2 separate regions of the Homo sapiens genome follow, and region 1 is linked to region 2. A link means that fine-mapping ties the variant in region 2 to the expression of a gene that starts in the linked region. Tissue or cell type: whole blood. Region 2 holds a variant in brackets; the other region holds the start of a gene. All regions are shown on one strand. Distances are between the middles of the regions.

What was found.
Region 1: it holds the start of PHF11, and the variant in region 2 is fine-mapped to the expression of PHF11 in whole blood (INTERVAL, PIP above 0.99).

The regions. Positions count from the first base shown.
Region 1 is chr13:49,491,669-49,502,355 of GRCh38, forward strand. PHF11 (PHD finger protein 11) reads left to right here and starts at 4,285. Exons shown (of 10, transcript NM_001040443.3): 1 at 4,285-4,427. The coding sequence starts at 4,334. The region is part of intron 12 of SETDB2-PHF11 (SETDB2-PHF11 readthrough); the gene reads left to right. SETDB2 (SET domain bifurcated histone lysine methyltransferase 2) reads left to right here. Exons shown (of 14, transcript NM_001160308.3): 14 at 64-3,335. The coding sequence ends at 181. RefSeq lists enhancers at 3,091-3,776, 4,087-4,326, 4,817-4,866 and a silencer at 4,347-4,626.
Region 2 is chr13:49,520,890-49,533,649 of GRCh38, forward strand. SETDB2-PHF11 (SETDB2-PHF11 readthrough) reads left to right here. Exons shown (of 21, transcript NR_135324.2): 15 at 5-51; 16 at 1,154-1,218; 17 at 2,286-2,352; 18 at 3,196-3,327; 19 at 4,884-5,048; 20 at 5,498-5,569; 21 at 7,622-8,087. PHF11 (PHD finger protein 11) reads left to right here. Exons shown (of 10, transcript NM_001040443.3): 5 at 5-51; 6 at 1,154-1,218; 7 at 2,286-2,352; 8 at 3,196-3,327; 9 at 5,498-5,569; 10 at 7,622-8,087. The coding sequence ends at 7,776. RCBTB1 (RCC1 and BTB domain containing protein 1) reads right to left here. Exons shown (of 13, transcript NM_018191.4): 13 at 11,057-12,760. Among named protein-coding and RNA genes, the nearest start is that of PHF11, 31 kb to the left of the region's middle. The variant T/A (reference allele first, on the strand shown) is at 7,347.

The sequences.
Region 1 (10,687 bases), 30 kb before region 2:
AATTTGGTTCATTGGTAGTTATTTAGGGTATTTTATGATTCTTTTCAAATTTCTACTTTCTAGGTATGTGAAAGCAAGAACAGAGCTAACATGGGATTATGGCTATGAAGCTGGGACTGTGCCTGAGAAGGAAATCTTCTGCCAATGTGGGGTTAATAAATGTAGAAAAAAAATATTATAAATATGTAACTAACGCCTGTTTGTGAAATTAGCTTATCAGGCTGAAATTAAAGCCATGCAAAAGAAGGTCTAGGTCCATCAAGGAAATTCCCCTCCGTTTTCCTTTGTCATGGGGTTTATGTTTTATTTCAGATTTTATTTGTGTGACTTAGAAATTCCAGGAACACAATTAGGATATTTTCATACACATAGGGTATCTTGTTCACTGCTGTGCTACTTTACATGAGTAGGATGGAAGTGTATATTTTATATGAAATACCACTGTACAATTTATAATTTATTTACAAATTATATATTAAGAGAAACAAATGTCATAACAGAACTCAGCTGTTTCTAATTGCTTTTGTGACTGTTACCTTTTAGTTCATGCCCCCCCAAAGAGCTAAATTTCACATTTTTACCTACAAAATTGATTTTTAATTCCTGGCAAATAATTTACCATTATGAGCTACAAGGTGGGCAACAGCGCCTGAGGATCTAATTTTATGCATATTACTCCCAAGTATTTTAACACTTGTTGGAGAAGCAATATCTGGATCGATAAAACACTGTCCCATCAACCATTTGAGTGGGGAGAGGGAGAAGCTCTTCTGTAAGTAAGATTCTGGCAAGCTCTTTGAAATGAGTCTTCTTTCCCACAGATTTTCTCTACTCTTTCTATACAAACAGATAGGAGAAGAGGGAATAGAAACCTGGAGGAACTTGAATATTTTTGTTCTAGATAGAGATACAGTTACTGAAAAGGAAACCTAGAAAGTAGTCACACGTTGCTTATTTAGGCCAGAAGTAATTGTACTGGGCAAAAATTTCACTTAAAAAACACAAGAAGTCCAGGTATGGTGGCTCAGACCTGTAATCCCAGCACTTTGAGAGGCCGAGGCAGGTGGATTACTTGAGCCTAGGGGTTCAAGACCAGCTTGGGCAACATGTCAAAACCCTGTCTCTACAAAAAATACAAAAATTAGCCTGGCATGATGGCATGTGCCCGTAGTCTCAGCTACTCAGGAGTGAGGTGGGAGGATCATTTGAGCTCAGAAGGTCAAGGCTGCAATGAGACATAATTTCACCATAGTACTTCCAGCCTGGGCAATAGAGCAAGACTCTCTCTCAAAAAAAACAGCACACACACACACACACGAAAACAATTCTGAACTATGAAATCTGAAACAGCCCCTTGGTATCTCCTGGGCATGATTTGCAAATCTTTTTTTTTTACAGAAAAAAGGCAAAGAGTAAGCACTTTGCCATAGGTTACTTGGCCGTGATCATCTATCTAGTGGAAAAGGGGACTGGGAAGCCCAAGCAGACTGGGAAACCAGACAGCTAGGAAAAGGAGCAAAACATAGCCCAGCAACCTACAGATGAAGAAAGTTGAGAAATCCATTTATTCACCATAGAGACGCAGGAATTTCAGGCAATGCACTAAAATGAAATGGGGGAAAAAAGCTTGATCAGTATGGGAACCATTTTTGTGCAAAAGGGAATATTATGGATCAGCCAGTATTTCTTTGAGCTCTGCCTGTGGAGTCCATTTGACCTTTAGAAATATGAGGTATTCTGTCAGTTTTATCTTCTTGGAGAAATTTCTCCTAAAATCTTGATTTGCTTTAGTCTGGACTGGTTCATAGCCATCATCTTCCATCAGTACCCCAGAGATTCACTTTGTCTCTTATGTGGGATCTGTTTCCAGTTAGATGCCATTATTTTCCTTTTCCTTGGTTTACTCTTCCACATATTGGTAAAGCTCTTCCAATAGCTTTTGGAAAGGAAAAATGAAAAGTAAATGTTTTGAATCTCTGTGTGTTTGACAATGTCTTTATTTTACCCTTATACCTGATTGCTGTTTTGGTTGGCAAGGTATAGGATTCTTTAGTGGTCTCCATGCCCAGTTTTGAAGACATCTGCTAGCTTTCAGTGCTGTTGCTGTGGAGTCTGAAAATCTGTCTTCTGGCTTCCAGGGTGACTACTGGAAATTGAATGCCATTCTGTTCCTTCTCTTTTGCATATATAATCCATTTTTATCTCTCTTGAAGCTTATAGGTTTATCTTTGTCTCAATGTTCTGTCCCTGTTAAGAGTCCATTTTCATCCTTTGTACTAGGTGCCTGGTGGGATCATTCCGTCTGAAACTAATGATTTCCCATCTCTTCACTGTTTCTGGAATTCCTGTTTTCCAGATGTTAGACCTCCAGAATTTGATCTCTAATTTTCCTATCTTTTCTCTTAACTTTCAGCTCTGTCTTCTTGCTAGGACCTTTTCCTAGGAGCATTTCTCAATTTAATCTTCCAGTTCATCTGTTGCATTTTATTTTTCTAGTCTCATATTGTCTCATATTTTTAATTTCTAAGAGCTCCCCTTCTCCGAATATTCTTTTTTTTTAATAGCATCCTATTTTGGCTCATGGTTGCAGTATTTTATCTCCTTGAAGATGTTTGTGTGTTTATGTATGTATATGCACACACGTATACATACACATACAGGCATGCATCTCTGTATTCTTTCGGCATAATCTGTGTCCTCCAGGGTTTGTTTCTTTGTTTCCCCTGTATGTTTGTTTTGGTCGTTCACATTATAGGCTTTCCTCAGAGTTAATGGTCTTGGTAGTCTACTCATATTTAAGTGTGGAACACCAAAAAGCTTACTATAAGCTGAGAGTGTGGTAAAGGGCTCTTTGTTTTACTATGACCTACCTGAGCTATCTTGCTGGGGAACACCCTAATGTCAGTCTCTTTATAAAGGGCCTTTCATTTTGGCCTGGCAAGAAATACTCTTTCATCCTCCTGCATGGAGGGCAAAAAAAAATTTAAAAATTGGCTGCTAGGGTCTGTCTGCTCACTTCCCTGTTTTGCAGACCCCACACTCTTCTGCAATTCATTTCATAGTTGTCAAGACTATACAAATTGTCCTTTTTAATGTTCTCTCTTCTGCTATCCCTAGTTGGCAGTCTTCCTCTTTACAACCTGCTGAAAGTGGAAGACCTCCAGTTTTCCTTTAATTCCTCAGCAAACCACCAACTATTATATGTCTTTTTTCCAGAACAACTTATTTTTTAACTATAATTATATGCATTTATGTTAGATTCACTGAAAACCTCATCTTGTATGGTGCTCTGTACCCTATGGGTGCTAAATAAAGGCTTGCTACTGGCAACTGGATTTAGGATCGGCTAATTCTGCGTCCTTTTAAGATATGCTTATTTAAGCCAAACTCGGTATGATAATTTTTTTTTTTTTTTTTTTTTTTTTGAGAGGGAGTCTGGCTCTGTCGCCTAGGCAGGAGTGCAGTGGCGCGATCTTGGCTCACTGCAACCCCCGCCTCCCGGGTTCAAGCGATTCTCCTGCCTCAGACTCCCGAGTAGCTGGGATTACAGGCGCCCGCCACCAAGCCCGGCTAATTTTTGTATTTTTAGTAGAGACGGGGTTTCACCATGTTGACCAGGCTGGTCTCGAACTCCTGACCTCGTGATTCGCCCACCTCGGCCTCCCAAAGTCCTGGAACTACAGGCGTGAGCCACCGCGCCCACCCGGCCAGTATGATAGTTTTTAGGAGGAACCCTCAGGAGAGTGATTGTTTCTCCCGCTGTGTTGTGGGGGGTGGAGTAGGGAAGCCTGGCGTTTGGGGTTTTTTTGTTTGTTTGTTTTTTGTGTGTGTTTGTTTGTTTGTTTGTTTTGAGACGGAGTCCCGCTCTGTAGCCCAGGCTGGAGTGTAGTGGCGCGATCTCGGCTCACTGCAAGCCCCGCCTCCCGATTCAAGCGATTCTCATGCCTCAGTGTCTGGAGTAGCTGGGATTACAGGCACCCGCCACCATGCCCAGCTAATTTTTGTATTTTTAGTAGAGACGGGGTTTCACCATGTTGGTTAGGCTGGTGTTGAACTCCTGACCTCGTGATCCGCCCTCCTCGGCCTCCCAAAGTGCTGGGATTACAGGCGTGAGCCACTGCTCCCGGCGTTTGGGTTTTTTAAGCTATTCAAATTAAGACTAGACTGGAATCTGGAGCAGTGTGTGTGACAACCCCTCTCTGCACACCCAACTTTCCCCGGGCCGGCTAGTGACTCAAAGCGACAGCCCAGATTTAAGAAAACGAAACCTAGTGCAGCTGGGGCACTTCCGGGATCTCGCTATCCGGCCGCCACCCGCAGCTGCAGCACAGTCATGGCCCAGGCGTCGCCGCCCCGGCCCGAGAGGGTGCTCGGCGCCAGCAGCCCGGAGGCCCGGCCCGCGCAGGAGGCGCTCCTCCTTCCCACCGGTGTGTACCGCGGGGGCGGGCGGGCGGGCGGGCGGGGCTGGGCAGCGACGGGCCCGGTCAAGGGGCCTGCCTTCCGGTCGTGGCCGCATGGGGGCCCGACCTGCCCCTACTCCGGGCCGGGGCCCTAGACGCCGGGGCGGCGCTGGACGAACTTGGCTCACCACTCGCGTGCCTGTTGGTGGGGGAGGGGGCCAGAGGACAGGGCGCGGCCCAGGCCAGTTCCACAGGTGGCTCTGACTGCCCATGGTTTCGCGCGAGTGGTGGGCACGCTTCGGTTTACCTCCCCCGCGGGTGACAGCCCAGTGCTTCCACCACAACCGATGTCAACTCTCCTAGCGCCCCTCCGCTCACCGGTAAACCAGGACAGTGGAGGGGCGCCCTGATGCGGTGAGGCAGGGGGCGGCCCTGAGGGAAGAGCTGGGTCTCACGTTCACGGAGGACGTGACTGGAACCCGTCTCCCCTTCTCCAGTCGTTCCAGTCCTCCCCGGCCCTCTACTTGAGTGGGTGGGTCTTCTGATGGGTTCCTGCCCTTGCGTGTGTGTATAGCTCCAAACGGTGTGCCAGGCTCAGGGCAAGGTCCTGAGCATACAAAGATGAGTTAGGCAGACCCTGCCCTAGAGACTCTACTAGGCAACTTTAATGAGGAGGTCAGAACCACAGAGGTACAGATGAGAGACTCCTGACTCCCAGTCTTCAGGGAAAGCTTTTTGAGGAGAGGATGGCTGGGCTTACCCTTTTTTTTTTTTTTTTTTTTTGAGAGGAGTTTCACTCTTGTTGCCCAGGCTGGAGTGCAAAGGCGCTATCTCGGCCCACTGCAACCTCTGCCTCCCGGGTTCAAGCGATTCTCCTGCCTCAGCCTCCCGAGTGGATGGGATTACAGGCATGTGCCACCACGCCCAGCTAATTTTGTATTTTTAGTAGAGAGGGTTTCTCCATGTTTCATGGGCTTACCTTTAAAGGGCAAGACTCAGCCAAAGGTGGAAAAGTTGAAGGGGTGTTCCCAGCAGAGAGGATGACACAAAGGCACCAAACCACAAAACGTCACACGTAAACATCATACGTGGCAACCACAAGCCAATCAGTTGGATATTTCATTCATTGGTATACATATGGACTGTAAGGTAAGTCACGGGAGATGCGCTTCCATCCTGACCTCTTCCTCAAACTCCAGACTGGTATAACCAACTTCTTCCATTTCTGAAATGATCTCAAACTGAGTATGTCCCAAAGAGAATTCTTGTTTCCTCCACTGTATTCAGGTACTCCAAACCTGCTCAACCACCAGCCCATTCCATTCGCCCAGGTGCTCCTTGCAAAAACCTTAGTGGCTCCTCAGGGCCTCTCTTTCCTCCGGACACCCCTTCTAATGCATCAGTCGGGCCAGCCAGTTCTGTGTTCAGCCTGACTGTATCTGGAGCCTGACTGCTTCTCACCACTTCCATTACTGCCACCCAAGCCTACGCCATCATGATCTTCTGTCTGGACTATTGCTTTCCTGGCTTCTATTCTAGCCTTTAATACAGGCAGGCCTGCAGAGCGGCCAAAATGCTTTTTGAAAAACAAAAAGCAAATGTGATTCTCCTACTCAAAACCCACCAATAGTCTCCCATGACTCTCAGAACAATCTATGAGCCTGGCCTGCAGTTTACCCCATGTCCTTATCTGATTTGACTCCTGCCCATCTTAATGACTCTGCTACCCTGCTACCTTGTAGGTCCTCTAAGCCACCAAAGCTGTCCCTGCCTCAGGATCTTTCCATTTGCTATTCTCTGCAAGGAAAACTCATTGCCACATTATCCCATTTTCAGTTCCCCATCATATTCAGGTGTCTGCTCATATACATCTTCCCTCAACCTTGCCTGCCCATCCTGTCTAAAAGAGCACCCCTTGCCCCTGCTCCTGTCACTCTCTACCTCCTTCTGCTCTATTCTTTCTCTATAGTACTTATCACTACCTGGAAAACAAAACAAAACTTGTTTAATGCCTGTCTCTACCACTGGCCACTGGCATGTAAATTCGTCTTACTCTCTTCTATCCTTAGTGCCTAGACTGGTTGGCCTAGTAGTAGTAGTAGGACATAGTAGGTACTCATTAAATATTAAATAATAGTAAGTCCTCATTAAATATTTGTTGAAGGAATGAATGTACTTGTATATAACACTACGGAGCTTGACTTCTGTAGGTGATGGGGAAATATGAGCAGATGTCCATTTCAGGTAGATCATTCTGACAGTAACATAGTACATTTCCGGTAGATCATTCTGACAGTAACCTAGCACATTTCTGGTAAATCATTCTGACAGTAACCTAGTACATTTCCGGTAGATCATTCTGACAGTAACCTAGTACATTTCCAGTAGATCATTCTGACAGTAACCTAGTACATTTCAGATAGATCATTCTGACTGTAACCTAGTACATTTCCGTTAGATCATTCTGACAGTGACCTGGTACATTTCAGGTAGATCATTCTGACAGTAACCTAGTACATTTCAGGTAGATCATTCTGACAGTAGCATAGTGCATTTCAGGTAGATCATTCTGACAGTAACGTAATACATTTCAGATAGATCATTCTGACAGTAATATAAAGAATGCAGTGGGATCATGACAGGGAAAATAGAGACAAGGACAAGAGATCACTGGAATAGACTAGGTGAAAGACCCTGAGGGTAAGGCAGTCCACCTTCCACACCGCTGCCAGCACTGTCTTTCTCTTAAACACACATGGGCACACACACATATAAACATGTGAGTGCACACACACAGATCAAGTAAGTCATGGTCCTTCCAGTGTTAATAAGCACGTACTGGCTGCAAGTACTACAAAAACAATTTGATGTAATTTAAGCATGAGGGATGCTTAGTAGTAGTAAGCAGGAAAACCAGACTCACAGACCCCCAGAGCATGGATACTTTAGCATCTTACAGAAAGGGCTGAGGACTAGGACCTGAGAAGCCATTATAAACTTTGACAACACTCTCCTTTATCTCTTATTTCTGCATCTCTCAGTGTATCTGCTTTGTTCTTCTCTTTCTCTGGTCCAGTTTTCCTGGTGATGGTATAGAAGATGGCTGCCCTTGCAGCCTCTCAGTTTTTACATCTTCTTTAAGAAACCAGCCCAATCTGAACTGAAATCTTCTATCCTGAATTCTGTATATCTGAGAGATGAGCAGGTCCTCTGGGACTATCAGCTATGTCTAGAGGAATGAAGTACAAACATGCCTGCTGGGGGTCATTGTGTACGCATCATTGTGAGCTGAACAGATACCCTAAAGGAGTCCATTGAATATCCTATCCTTAGGCTCCCCATGGTCCCTCCTCTATAACACACACATCCTTATTCCTATTTATACATTCTAAAGATATTCCCAGTGATGCATTCTGTTCCCAGTAATGAATTCTAGCTATACCAAAACCAAATTCAGTCACACTTAACTTCTGCCAAAGTCATATCTAGCCACTTCATCCTGAGATAATGTGATGGAACCATTCATTCTCCAAGGCCATTACCAAGTTCCTTGCCAAGCCTCTAGGTAATGTCTACTGTTTTGGTCTGTATCCAGTTCAGGTAGGCATTCACTGGACCAGTGATAAAATTGGCTTCTACACATCCAGCAAACAGTGGAAGAACTAAAATAGTAAATTGCAATAAACACTAATGATAAAAGGAGAAGAAAGGAGGAAATCTCCAAACCAGCACCATAAATTAGTTACCTACCAGTCCAGAACAAATCTATACTGGAAGGGGATTCTAAATGAAATGATAGGATTAGTGAATCCCATTCCAACTGTTTCACCCATTTCTTTAGTGGCAGAATGTGTTCCTTGACCACGCTTCCTGGCTACCCCAGATTCTGTGCCCTGGGTGGATTACCCTTGGCTGGAGGGCTTTAAGAGTAGAAGCTAGAGCCTCGGCAATCCATTTCCACATTGAAGAGGGCCTGCAGATTGCCGGAGAGATTAAGAATCACTGTGTTGTTTGAATTAGTCATAGTTCTTATATTCCAGGCTTGTGATCTTTCTGTGGTTTCATTCTGTATAAACTTTCTTGGCTCTCAGTTTCATTTGTGAGAATTCTAAAATTCTGCAATCTTGTCGGGTCAGGCTCTGTGAGTCCTCAGGGTTGCTAAACCCCCCTAGAAAGGAGCCTGGAAAGCCCTGCTGACTATTCTTGGTCCCAGCTACTGATGAAAACCAATGGGCTCTTCCCTAAAATACCTCAGCCTTCATGACACACCTTTAGGTATCCCTCCCTCTCTGAATCTGTACAGTTCCTGAGTTCAGATGGTGAGGGATACCAAACTGTCCAAATGTATGTGGTCCATGAGTTTCGGATAACACATAGCAAGAGTTCAGATAGTGAGAGATGCCTGTCTGTGTAAAAGTCCTCAGTGTGACTCCCATAGTGAGAGATGCCTGTGTAAAAGTCCTCAGTGTGACTCCTCCAACTGCAGAGAATTACACACTTCCTCCAGTCTAGAAGATCAAAAGAGCTAGAAGAGCCGAAATCCATTAAGACACTGTGATATGGGGGGATTTAGCAGGAAAAAGCCACTAGGGAGAACCTGTGGGTCCCACCCCATGTTTTTAATCCATCTGCACTGAAGACAAACTCTGGGTCTAGCACAGCAGTGTTGTCAGCATATCTGTCTTGTCTGTCTTGTTCTTCTCTGTATTCCCCGTTGTCAGAGAATACAAACCACCTCTGTATTCCCAGATGCCAAGACTCTTGGAACCCAAGTACTTGGGAGCTCAGCTCAGGTATCAGTGACTTGACAGCTCTGCCCAGTGCACAGAAACAAGCAATGTTGTACAAAAATGTTCAGCCCTTATACAACAAGAGGCAGCTGCATATCCTGTCAGATAGTATCGCTTTTAATTTGGGAGTCACCAACTTTTGTTTTTTTTTTTTTTTGGTTTTTTTTTTTCTGAAATGGAGTTTTGTTCTCATCGCCTAGGCTGGAGTGCAATGGTGCGATCTCGGCTCACCGCAACCTCCACCTCCCAGATTCAAGCGATTCTCCTGCCTCAGCCTCCCGAGTAGCGGGGATTACAGGCATGCACCACCACGCCTGGCTAATTTTGTATTTTTAGTAGAGACGGGGTTTCTCCATGTTTGTCAGGCTGCTCTTGAACTCCCGACCTCAGGTGATCCGCCTGCCTCGGCCTCCCAAAGTGCTGGGATTATAGGTGTGAGCCACTACGCCCAGCCCCACTGGCTTTTTTTAAGCCTGTACTTTACAAGTTTTAATGTCTGTTTTGAGTGTCCTTTAATAAGAACACAGTATTCTATCAAAGTAGATTTTGGGTCTGAGGTAATTAGAATATTGGGATGTTTTTCCCCCAGTTTCATCCTAGGGCAGGGGACTTTGTGTTGTCAAATATTAACATATATTCTAAAACATTGAAAATTTTAAGTGTAGCATTGTTCAATGGAATAAAACAGAAGCACAGGAGGAACAGATCCAACTATATGAAAAGGAGATTTTAAATTAGTGGCTAACCATTATGAATATAAGTTAGATTCCCATCTCATACATTACAAAACAATTTATTCTATGTTCATGAATAGTTTAATTCTTTTTTTGTTTCATTTTGTTTTGTTTTTTTGAGGAGTTTCGCCCTTGTCGCCCAGGCTAGCATGCAGTGGTGCAATCTCAGCTCACTGCAACCTCCTCCTCCCAGGTTCAAGTGATTCTCTTGCCTCAGCCTCCCGAGTAGCTGGGATTATAGGTGTCCGCCACCATGCCCGGCTAATTTTTGTAATTTTAGTAGAGACAGGGTTTCACCATGTTGGTCAGGCTGGTCTCGAACTCCTGACCTCAGGTGATCCACCCGCCTCGGCCTCCCAAAGTGCTGGGATTACAGGTGTGAGCCACCGCGCCCGGCCAATATTTTAATTCTAAAATTAAATTAAGGCAGGACATGGTGCCTCATGCCTGTAATCCCAGCACTTTGGGAGGCTCAGGAGGGAGGATCACTTGAGCCTAGGAGTTCGAAACCATCCTGGACAACATGGCAAGATCCCTCCTCTACACAAAAATTTAAAAATTAGCTAGATGTGGTTGCATGCACCTGTAATCCCAGCTACTTTGGAGGCTGAGGTGAGAGGATCACTTGAGCTGGGGAGGTTGAGGCTGCAGTGAGCCATGATCATGCCACTGCACTCCAAGCTTGGGTGACAGGGCAAGACCCTGTCTCAAAATAAATAAATTGATTAATTAAAATAAATTAAAATTCTAGAAGAAAACAGAG
Region 2 (12,760 bases):
TCAGACTGCTTTGCCAGCAACATGCTCAATTCCCGATCATCGCTCAAAGTGGTAAGTTTCTAAAATTTAGCACTGTGGGTTTTAAAGAAAGGTAAACATTTATGTAACATAAGGAATAGTCTAATTTTCTAGCCTCGTTGAATTAAAATACAAATGTTTGAGTTAAAATTTTACACATCTAGAAAATTGACAACTTCTTTGTGTACTATGTGATATGACTGACTAATTTTTTCTTCTTTATGAACAAGACCTATTCTCTTTGAACCATTCCCTGGTATCTTTCATTCTCCCTACGCTCACAGAACCAAACTAAGACATGGGAAAAAGCCTTGACTTTTGGGACTGCTTCTCTTCCATAAGAATTTTCAGTAGATAAAATTTTAAAAGTGCTGCACCTTCCCTGAGTGAAAATTCCCTAAGGATGCATGGTTAGCATTTCAGTTCTAATTAAGGCAGACTGGATCCTGGCTAACTGGAGTCATGGGGTATACTTTCATTCATGAGTGGAACAGCAGTGTCTTAGCAGCACTACATCTGCAATGTTCATTGTGAAGTGGAGTCAGGACCTCGTTGGAAGACTTCGTTCTGCGTCATGCCAACTGCATTTTATGGTGATAACATTCTCCAAATAGCACCTCTACAATCATTTTTCAGTCGTTACCCTTTTAACTCAGCAGGAAAGGCTATTACAGATACTTCTTTAAATCAGTGTTTATTGACAGGGAAAAGCACCAGCAATACACACTTAACCAAATCCTTGCAAATGTCATCTATTAAATATCTTCATCCTTATTAGTCTGTTTTACTTTGAATATCTTCTGAGTGAAATTGAGTGCATTCCCATATCTTTTCACCAATTATATTTGTTTTCCTATGACCCAATTTGTTCATTTTTCTATTCAATGAACCCTCTCCCCAGAGAGTTCCCCATGTGCCAATTTTTCTACTCAATTATTTACCTGTTTTGCATTAAACTTATAATATCTTTTTTAAAAATTAACCCTTTATCATAAGTGCTGCAAACACTTAGTTGAAGTTTGCCATATCTTTTGACTTTGTAAAAACTTTTGGCATATGAGTTGTATATTTCATGTAGTCAAACAGTAATCTTTTCCTTTATGGATTCCAATTTTTAAATGGTTTATATTTTTAGCTAAATTTTCAGGAGTGAAAAGAAAAAGAGGAAGGAAGAAACCCCTCTCAGGCAATCATGTACAGGTAATTTGACTTAGTTTTTATAGCTTTGCATTTCTTCATACAGAGTCCTTATTTAAACCAGTCTGAATGTCAGGTGAAAGGTACTTTCCAAATCGTCCAAACAGAGAGCCTTTGAAGAACATTCTTCATTTGTGTTCTCAGCTAAGGCTGCTCCTGAGGTTGCCTTTTTAGGAAGAATCCCATAGTCGGGAAGCTCTTAGATAATTCCTAGATGATAGAATCATGATGAGATGAGCATGAAAATGAAGCTGGAAGTTCCAAGCACATAACCTTCAGGAGGTGACATTCTCCGAGCTCCTATAAATTCCCTGGCACCAAACTAGTGAGAGCATCTGACCCCACAGGTGCTTACAGTTAAAACGGGCAGAGGGTGCAGTCAAACATCCTTATGGAGCCAAGTATTTCCCAGCTGCATGACCCACACCTGACCAAATCTGTAGCTCTTATAAATTTCTGGATTATGTATAAAATGTATGAAAATATTTTGGGGATTTGAGTTTTTACACATCAGCACATATAAGCTAAATTCATATGCGCCAGCAACCTTCACCTCCTCCTGTTTATACAAGGGGTGCTTGTCAAACACCTCTTAATGTTTTATAATACAAAACAAAAATATATTTGATGTTTACATCTAAATATGAATATGGGGTTTTTTTGTTTTTTTTTTTTTTTGAGACAGAGTCTCTCTCTGTCACCCAGGATGGAGTGCAATGGTGTGATCTAAGCTCACTGCAACCTCTGCCTCCTGGATTCAAGTGATTCTCCTGCCCCAGCCTCCTGAGTAGCTGGGATTACAGGCATGCACCACCACGCCTGGCTAATTTTTGTATTTTTAGTAGCAACAAGGTTTCACCCTGTTGTCCAGGCTGGTCTCGAACTCCTGACCTTGTGATCTGCCCATCTTGCCCTCCCAAAGTGCTGAGATTACAGGCGTGAGACACCGCGCCCAGCCAGGGCATGATTTTTACTGTAGGCATATCATTTAGTTATGCACAGCAAAAGACTGGTTTTCATTTTATGCAATATTAAAATCAATGTAATGCAATCTTGATTTTCTCTCCTAGCCACCCGAAACAATGAAATGTAATACATTCATAAGACAAGTGAAAGAAGAGCATGGCAGACACACAGGTTTGCGCTAAGTGTTGTCTGTAACAAATATGGCCTACAATACTTATAAAAATGTCAACCCACCTGTTTCAAACTTGGTATCCCGCCTAAATCTTTATTCTTCTAGGCTTGTGGTAATTAATGAGTATAAATCTTTATCGCAACTGTCCACTCTATTGTAATCCCAGCATATCAAGATAACTTAGGTTGGAATGGTCCATTGCATTCAGTATTAAGAAAAGATAGACTTCTATTAATAAAGACACAGACAGGCTTGCCTGAGCTCAGAATCCAGCAATGTGTCACCCCTCACACTGTGACCCCTGTAACTGTAGTTCTCTGTTCTTTAAAGAAATAGACATTCCACTAACAACACATACAAACTGTGACAAGAAGTGACAGGGGCTGTTATGTCAAAGACTTAAGGGTAATTTTTAAAAATCCTCTTAATTCAACTACATATCGGGTACAGTGTACACTGCTCAGGTGACAGGTGCACCAACATCTCAGAAATCACCACTGAAGAACTTATCCATGTAACCTGAAACCACCTGTTCCCCAAAAGGTATTGAAATTTAAAAAGTTACAGTTTTATATGTTTAAAAAAGCCTCTTAATTCATATAGTTATTGTAAGCAGAGAAATTTTCATTTTTACTTTTTGTAACATTTTATTCATTGTTTCAGCTGGCCAAAAAAAATGAGGTATGATGAAATTATAATTAATAAAAAGGGTGAAGGTGCTGTATTATTTTACTAAGTATGTGCATCCACCACTAGGCAAGGTCTGAAGAAATAAGCATAAAGTAATTTATGATTAGCTGCCCTAAGACTATTTCCTTCTCAAATGTTTGTCTTATTCTTAGATGCAACTGTGAAAGTTCCTTTTCTTAAGAAATGCAAGGAAGCAGGACTTCTTAATTACTTACTTGAAGAAATATTAGACAAAGTTCATTCAATTCCAGAAAAACTCATGGATGAGACTACTTCAGAATCAGGTACTGATGAAGAGCAATATTTCGAAGTATAGAGACTTCTCCCAGATCTAGATTTAAAACAAAACAAACCCAAGAAAAAAAAAAAGGCCCATTTTCTTCCTATACTACTTTTTTCTTCTATCAGCTTTTGGAAATGCTTACTATTTATTTCACTTTTTGGTTTTGCCCTATAGAAAATAATCCCATTCAAATAAACATTTTTTATATTGTTGCCTACAATATAAGCTGTCCAGCTTGTCATTCTTTACCTTTACCTCATTCTTTTTTTTTTTTTTAAGACGGAGTTTCGCCCTTGTTGCCCAGGCTAGAGTGCAGTGGTGCGATCTTGCCTCACTGCAGCCTCTGCCTCCCAAGTTCAAGCGATTTTCCTGTCTCAGCCTCCTGAGTAGCTGGGATTTCAGGCACACGCCACTACGCCTGGCTAATTTTCTGTATTTTTAGTAGAGACAAGGTTTCACCATGTTGGCCAGGCTGGTCTTGAACTCCTGACCTCAGGTGATCCGTCCACCTCGGCCTCCCAAAGTGCTTGGATTACAGGCATGAGCCACCATGCCTGGCCCTTTACCTCATTCTTTAATAAAATAATTGGACCAGATCTACTATCCTTCATAAATCAACAGGATGTGGGTAATTTACAAACTCAGTAATTTAGTCAAAAGTAACCTCATGCCCTGAGAGTTGTGGTACATTTTCCAGAGGTGTCTAACAGGTTGGCCACTAAGAGAATGTGCCATTCAGAGATTGATTCGGTCACATATGCTCCCCTGCCACCGCCCTGCATTCCTGTTGCTAAGATCTGAGAACAGTGTTATGTTACAGTTTTGATTTTGGAATCCAATTCTATTCCTTAATAAGCCAAGTGTCCTTTTTTAAATAAGGTTAACTCAAACTTTAAAGTATAGAAGAAGGAATTTTAATGTTTTGACTGATGTTTGGTTTAAAGATGTACTTTGTTAAAGAAGTTTCTTTCTTAAGGGCTCTTTGGGAAGTCAAAGTTCCATTTGTATGTGCAGGTATATAGCTACTTAGCTTTTTGTTTGTTTGTTTTTGAGGCAGAGTCTCGCTCTCTCTCCCAGGCTGAAGTGCAGTGGCATGATCTCAGCTCATTGCAACCTCTGCCTCCAGGGTTTAAGTGATTCTCTTGCCTTAGTCTCCAGAGTAGCTAAGATTACAGACATGTGCCAACACACTCGGCTAATTTTTGTATTTTTAGTAGAGATGGAGTTTCACCATGTTGGCCAGGCTGGTCTTGAACTCCTGATCTCATGTGATCTGCCCGCCTTGGCCTCCCAAAGTGCGGGGATTACAGGTGTGAGTCACTGTGCCCAGCCTTACTTAGCTTTCTTATAACTTATATCCCATGAGTTTAAAACCTTTATTATAAATATAGTTATTTTACAAGGACAAGCTGGACAGCTTATATTGTAGGCAACAATATAAAAAATGTTTATTTGAATGGGATTATTTTCTATAGGGCAAAACCAAAAAGTGAAATAAATAGTAAGCATTTCCAAAAGCTCATTTATTATACTATTTTATTCATTTATTTCCTCTAGACCAAGCACTTCCCAAACAGTGTGCCTGAGAACCACCTGTAGGGCTGGTGAGGACACAGATAGCTGGGCCTATCCCACAGAGATTCTGATTCAGTACAAATACCAAGAATTGGGGGCCAGGCGCGGTGGCTCACGCCTGTAATCCCAGCACTTTGGGAGCCCGAGGTGAGTGGATCATCTGTGGTCAGCAGTTCGAGACCAGCCTGGCCAACATGGCAAAACCCTGTCTCTACTAAAAATACAAAAATTAGCCGGGCGTGGCGGTGCGCGCCTGCAATCCCAACTACTTGGGAGGCTGAGACATGAGAATCGCTTGAACCCAGGAGGCAGAGGTTGCAGTGAGCCAAGATCGCACCACTGCACTCCAGTCTGGGCAACAGGGTGAGATTCTGTCTCAAAAAAAAAAAAAAAAAAAAAAGAAAAAAGAGAAATGCCAAGAATTACATTTCTGACAGCTTCCCTGTAGTGCTGCTGCTGCTGTTGCCATCTAACATTAAAGTTCCATGGCACATGACTGCTCTCTTTCCTTTCCCCTGTTTTGGATTACATATATAAATGGAGGAGTTTCTGCCTATACAAACTGTTTAATATTGAAAATGTTTCTCTCCCTCCAGACTATGAAGAAATCGGGAGTGCACTTTTTGACTGTAGATTGTTCGAAGACACATTTGTAAATTTTCAAGCAGGTATATGAGTTATATAACATCTGAGCAGCATAGTTTTGAGAAATATTTATCACGATATTGAAACAATATACTGTACAGGTGATAAAAATATTTTAGAAGAATGTTCATTGTTTTCTTAAATGAGAAAAGCCAATTACAAAAACAGTATGACCCCGCCCACCTGCCCACACACACAGGAAAAAAATATCGAGGTACATGTGCACAGACAAAAGCTGCACCTGGTGGAGACAGTAGTTGGTTGTAGGTAGTTGGAATATAGTGATTTTTGTCTGTTCTTTTACTGCTATATTTTCCAGATTTTCTATATACACACAAATACTTTTATAATGAGAAAAACTCATTAAAAAAGTAGAGACAACAAAAAATTGATTCAAAAATTGGAGCATATTTTGGCCTGTGTGTGGCCCAGGCAGGAGCTGGTAAAGCTTCCTGCGGCTTCTCTGCTCTTGGGTGGCGAGGCTATGATAAACCATCCCTCCGCTTGCCTCCCTCTCGCTTGGTGAGATAGGTCAAAATTTTAATTCTCCCACTATTAATCCTCAAATCTAATTTAATTTCTTATCAGGGAGGGTTACGACTGATTTAAAGTTCATCAGAAAAAAAAAAAACAAAAACAAACAAACAAAAAATGAGCAAGTAAGAATAGCCAAGAAATGTTTGCAGTAGAAAATCTCGTTTGGTTTGGAGGAGGGAGATTTAACCTTCCTATTAAATATCAACCATTTATTGAGTGAGTCCTCCTTTCAGCATTAAGATGCCCTCAAGACAGGCTACACCTCCACTTGTTTATGAGTCTGGTCTGACTTCTCTATCAAGGCTGCCACACACAGCTGGGCAGGCCGGGCACAGAGTCAAACAGCATTGGTGGATGGCTCCCCCTGAAGTTGCACAACAGAGTGAGTGCCCTCCACACTCTGCATTTCCACAGATGCATCTGTCTCTCCAGCATATGGTAGGAAGACAATAAGATTTCCCTGTGAAGAAATCATTAGTTCATATCCCTGTCTCAACATACACAACCTTTCTCATTTTGGCTTCTATATTATACATTTCTATTTGAATTTTTTACTACATTTATAACCAGCAGGAAAAATACTTTGAAAAATCTACCAAAAAGAGTGTCTGTCTTAATAGTCTTTTGAGGATGTCTGCTAATATATAGCAGTATCCATATTTTTTTAAAGCAGCCTTAAAAATTTTTTTCTAAAAAGAGTTATTTTGTAGGGGACTTCCATGTGTGTTTTTCTTTCATGTAAGGGAACATGTCACACATCACTACTTGGATGGATTAGGTGGGAGTACATATATTATAGTGTAGTATGGCGGGGGTGCCACTACTTAGAACTGCATGAGATTCAACTTAAAAGGCTTAAGTTGGGTTTCACTACCCTGGTTGATAAAAACTTGCTTAATTTAGCCTTACTCATATTTTAAGTTAACTATACGTATGCAGTTATTCTGAATAAAGTTTGTATATGTGTGTAACTGTTCGATTTTGAGGCTTTTAAAAATTACATTGCCATTGACTACTATTTGTTATTTATAAAGCCTAAGTATCTTCCTCCTAAGCTTTTCTAAGTTTCCACAATTAAAAGCCTTCCTATTTCTAAATGAAACCAAAAGCCTTTATGTAACATTAAAAATTGGACACATTTTTAGGAAGGATTTGTCCTTAACCTTGGTATTCTAGCCACATTCTCCAATTATCATCTCTCAATAAATGGATATAGTATAGCATGAAGGTTATACAGTCACTGTTTTCAAGTTCTCAAAGATA[T/A]ACAAAGGGACTTGTTCTGCTATAAATGTGCACAAAATCTTAAGGGTTTACTGAACAGCTTTGTGTATGATAAATGTTAGAATTCTGTCCTGAATTAGAAGGAGGAAGTGAAGGCATAAAGAAACCAGCTCCTGCCCATAAGGCTCTGGATCCTTTTCACCAGAGGCACGAGGATTGTGTATCTGTACCTGCAAGTGAAAGGGGCTAGAAATGGTACATTATTTCTAATAAAACTACTGAATAAGCTGAAATAATTTTATTTCTTCTTTTCATAGCAATAGAGAAAAAAATTCATGCATCTCAACAAAGGTGGCAGCAGTTGAAGGAAGAGATTGAGCTACTTCAGGACTTAAAACAAACCTTGTGCTCTTTTCAAGAAAATAGAGATCTTATGTCAAGTTCTACATCAATATCATCCCTGTCTTATTAGGGATTACCGTTTCCTAAGCCAAGAGTCATGTCAAATTGCAATCAGGCTCAAAACCAGAGACCAGGCTGTGAAATCCACACATCTTTAGAACTAGTCGTCTCCTCTTGGCCTCAGCAGCTCTTCCCTGTTCTTACTGGTTGACATTTTGATCACTCTTTGCACACTCTTGTGTTTTTTGCTCACTGTCACATTCCCAGCACCTAGTATGCTCAGTAAATGTTTGTGGAATAAGTGCATAAAATGTTCTTAACCTTTGATTCTACTTACAGCCCATGATAGCCTCTTAGATATAATAAATTTGGATTATACTACTTTACTTGTACCAAATTTGCCTGTTTTCGTGTCACAAAGTCTGCTTTTGAAAAGTCTCTTTTCAGCCACAGTTATCACGTGGAGATTCATCATCTTCAAAACAGACACCTAAATTTTAAATTGGACTCTGAATAAGAACATTATCGGGAGTATGCAAGAATGAAAAAAAAAATTGACAGTTACATTTTTCTCAATCTAATATACGATTCTGGTTTTTATGCCCACACTATCACGTCTGACCCCTGAAAACTTAACATTCACAGTTCTCATTTTTTACCATGGTACTCTGATTTTCAATAATGCTGCGTCTCAAAATGGGTTTTAACTGAGTCTCCAAGCATGGTGTCTGACATGTAATAAATAAGTACTGGAAAAATATTTGCAGGAGATGAAAAAGAACAGTCCATTCCAGTTGTAATGGCAGCCCTAGCCTAAGTTCTTATATCTTAGGGACAAAATCTAAACCAGTGGATTTCAAATCCGGCCGCACATCAGAATCATGTGGGGCACTTTAAAAACTACAGAAGTGAAGACCCCATCCAACACCCTCTGAACAGATTTCCGCTAGTCTAGATGATTATTGATTACTGTAGCTTCAGCTTCCTATCCTGATATTAAGTCTTAGCAAAGTTTTTGGTTGTTGTTTTGTTTTGTTTAAGACGGAGTCTCACTTTGTTGCCAGGCTGGAGTGCAGTGGTGTGATCTCGGCTCACTGCAACCTCTGCCTCCTAGGTTCAAGCGATTCTCCTGCCTCAGCCTCCCAAGTAGCTGGGACTACAGGCGCGCACCACCATGCCCAGCTAATTTTTGTATTTTTAGTAGAGATGGGGTTTCACCATGTTGGCCAGGATGGTCTCGATCTCTTGACCTCGTGATCTGCCTGCCTCGGCCTCCCAAAGTGCTGGGATTACAGGCGTGAGCCACCACGCCCAGCCATCTTAGCAAAGTTTATCTGACTAATCATTCTGATGTCATGATCTTTATTTAAAAAAAAAAACCTTTGTCCCCCACTTTACTTTCACGTTTAACCTGTGACTCACACAGCATGTAACTGTGCACCATGGAGCACCATGTGTTTGGTGGCCATGAGGCTGGCTACTGGGCAAACCCGAGTATGGGTTCATAAGGCGGAGCCGAGTATGAACTTCAGCTATGTCACTACTGAAAAACTTGAATCCGATTATTTAATCTGAGAATGCTGCTGCCTACCTTATGGGACAAAATATGGACAAGTAAGTAAAATGTGAAGCAGAGAGCACAATGTCTGGCACTATGGGAAATAAATGTTAAAACACACCCATGCACGCACACACTCCCCTTGCTAACATTTCTGTCTTATTTTCTCCATTCTAACCAAACTTAATTATGATAAGCTCTGGAAGGCTCATTAGCCCCCATCTCTTGTGCCTCTTTTTGTTTTGGAGATGAGCTAAAAGGACACTTTATATTTTCCCCTATCCAACACAAGCGTTATCTTCAGAACAACTAACTGCTTGTCATGTTAACCCTATTAACTGTATTAGTCCGTTCTCACACTGGTATGAAGAAATACCAGAGACTGGGTAATTTATAAAGGAAACAGGTTTAATGGACTCAGTTCCGCATGGCTGGGGAGGTCTCAAGAAACTTACAATTGTGGCGGAAAGGGAAGAGGCCCGTCTTACGTAGTGGCAAGTAAGTGAGAGCACGCAAAGCCCAGGGGGAACTGCCATTTATAAAACCATCAGATCTCATAAGAACTCCCTCAATAGCATGAGAACAGCATGGGGAAACCGCCCCCATAATCCAATCACCTCCCAACAGGTCTCCCTCAACAACTGAGGATTACAATTCAAGATAAGTTGGGTGGGGACACAGAGCCAAACCACATCATCCTATTTGGTTTTCTCTCACTGACTGTTATGAAAAGCTCTTTATAAGTATCTCATTGTGTTGTTAATTCCTAAACCTATCTCCCTCTCTCCTAATAATTCATATGTTCTTTGAGGATAGGGAATATGCCTTTCCCTTCAAGTACCCCCAAAGGTACAGACACATTTTTCTACTGTGCCAGTTCAACTGTACTACCCTTCAGCAGGAATAAAATCCAAAGATTTCTATGATGTTTGTTTGTGTATAGTTGAGAATCAAGCAGTTGACATGTTCATGCTGGTACCTATTTTTAGCCTGATACCCATTAAGAATCACACCACTGATTTTTTTTATTATGGTAAAATATATATATAACCTAAAATTTGCCATCCCAATCATTTTTAAATGTATGGTTCAATGGCATTAAACATTCATTTTTGTGCAACCATCACCACCATGCACCTAAAGCAGCAGTCCCCAACCTTTTTGGCACCAGGGACTGGTTTCGTGGAAGACAATTTTTCCACGGACCATGGGGATGGGGCGGTTGGTCAGGGGTGGGGAGGATGGTTTTGGGATGAAATTGGTCCACCTCAGATCACCAGTCATTAGATTCTCATATGGAGCACACAACCTAGATCCCTTGCATACTCAGTTCACTGTAGGGTTTGCACTCCTATGAGAATCTAATGTTCTAATGTTGCCACTGATCTGACAGGAGGCAGAACTCAGGCAGTAATGCTCACTCATCCGCCACTCACCTCCCGCTGTGCGACCTCTTCCTAACACGCCAGGGATGAATATGGGTCTGTGGCCCGAGGGTTGGGGACCCCTGACCTAAAGGACTCTTCATCTTGGAAAACTGAAACTCTGTATCCATTAAACAAGTTCCCCATTCTCCTCTCCCCTCAGACCCTGGCAATGACCATTCTACTATGTCTCAATGAATTTGACTAAGTATATCACACAAATGGCATCACATAGTATTTTTCTGTGAGTGGCTTATTTCACCCAGCATAATATCCTCAAGTTCACCTCTGTGCACCATGTGTCAGAATTTCTTTCCTTTTTAAGGCTGCAGACTACTGATTTTGAAGGAAAAAAACAACTCTATGTGCCTGTTTTAATGTTACTTTGTTTATTAACATGTCGTTCTAAATATTACATAAATACAGCTTACATACTAGAGTATCAAACATTGTTCCAGTAAGAAGTTCAAGAGTACATTTAGGGCTATCTTAAGAAATATGAATACTTTGGCTTCCATTATTACATTAGATGAAAAAATCAATTCAAATAAGAGTTGTCATATCCTGCTATGATTAACAAAAAAACAAGTAGAAAAATAAGAGAGTGTATTTAAAAAAAATAATCAAATGCTTTTTGAAAGACCTGTTCTCTTCACTGCCACACATATTCATACAAATGACTTAGTAATCTAATATGAGAAGTGGTCCTTCACTTATATTAGGAACTTGGTAAATATTTGTTGAATGAATGAACTATCTATGGATATGAATTTACTACTTTAATTTGTGCTTTTTTTGAAAAAAAGTTTTCAAGTAAGAGCAATAGTAAACATACTGAAGTTCACATTTTGCTCAGATCATAAGCCTATAGAACAGTGATTGTTACAAACACCACCCATCATAGCACAAATCAATGTGCATTTCTGAAGCTAGTAAGAAAAGTTCTATCATGTTGTAGAACGAATTCTAACCGACTAATTCACTGGGCTTCAATCACTTGTGATATGGTCAAGAAAAGGGGGCTGGGGCTCCTAGGCTTGTATCTATTTCAGCTATCAGTGAATTCCTATCTTTAGGGCCTCACTCCCCTTCCCACCCCAATAGACACAAATTTAAAAACATTGCTAAAAATAGTAGTTGTAGCATGTCTTCACCCACTTGTAATTTGGCTCTGAAAATGTATTCAGGCTCCAGGTTCAGAAGAGAGACTTTCCAAGCAGGAGACAAAATTCACTAAGGGAACTCACTCAAATGGAAATGAGTTCATGGACCAGAGAGCAAAGCAAAACATTGCTCTTAAAAGCAAGCTCAACGGACACACATGATGAAACTCACAGTTGAACACTCTTACATCCCAAAGTCACCTTCCATAACCAGTTCAAATAAACTACTGTCTTTTAATAGGATCTTTTCAGGAACACCATAATTTTGGTGCTTTTTCAAGGTGAAATTGTGCTGTTATACCTAAGATGTTTAAAAACAGAGGAAAACCAAAAGTGAAAGATGATAAAGTTTCACATAAGCCAATGTGTGATGGATTTGGCCTAAAGTAGATAAAGCAAATTCCACTAAGTCTTGTAAGAGGGTTGACTTGAAGAACCACTTCTTCCAGTCATATATAGTAGATATGATGATTCAGCAGTCATAATTTAGGAAGGCAAGAGTATACTATACATGTCATTATTTTCCTCTTAAGTTTGCATTTATAGAAGAAGGTGGTGGGGGACAATTTAAACTTGAGTTCTCAAGTTCTACCTTAATGAAATAAAACACCATTGGATAAGTAGTGGAGATTCTAATTTATAAAATATTCACCTTCATCAAATTTCTTTCATTATCAACTTTTCACGGATACTTCTAAATTACTATTCTTTATGCACTTAAATCTTAAGAGAAATCTTGACTAACCTAGAATATTTATCTTTACATAATTATCATTTCAACAGGTTTAATATACGTTAAACTTATTACTTTGATTTATCTTGAAGTTAAAAAAGTCATCAACGCAAGCACACAAACAAAAGTCTGAAACAATCTTAATTATTCCTTCACAGTAAGGCTACTAAACTAGC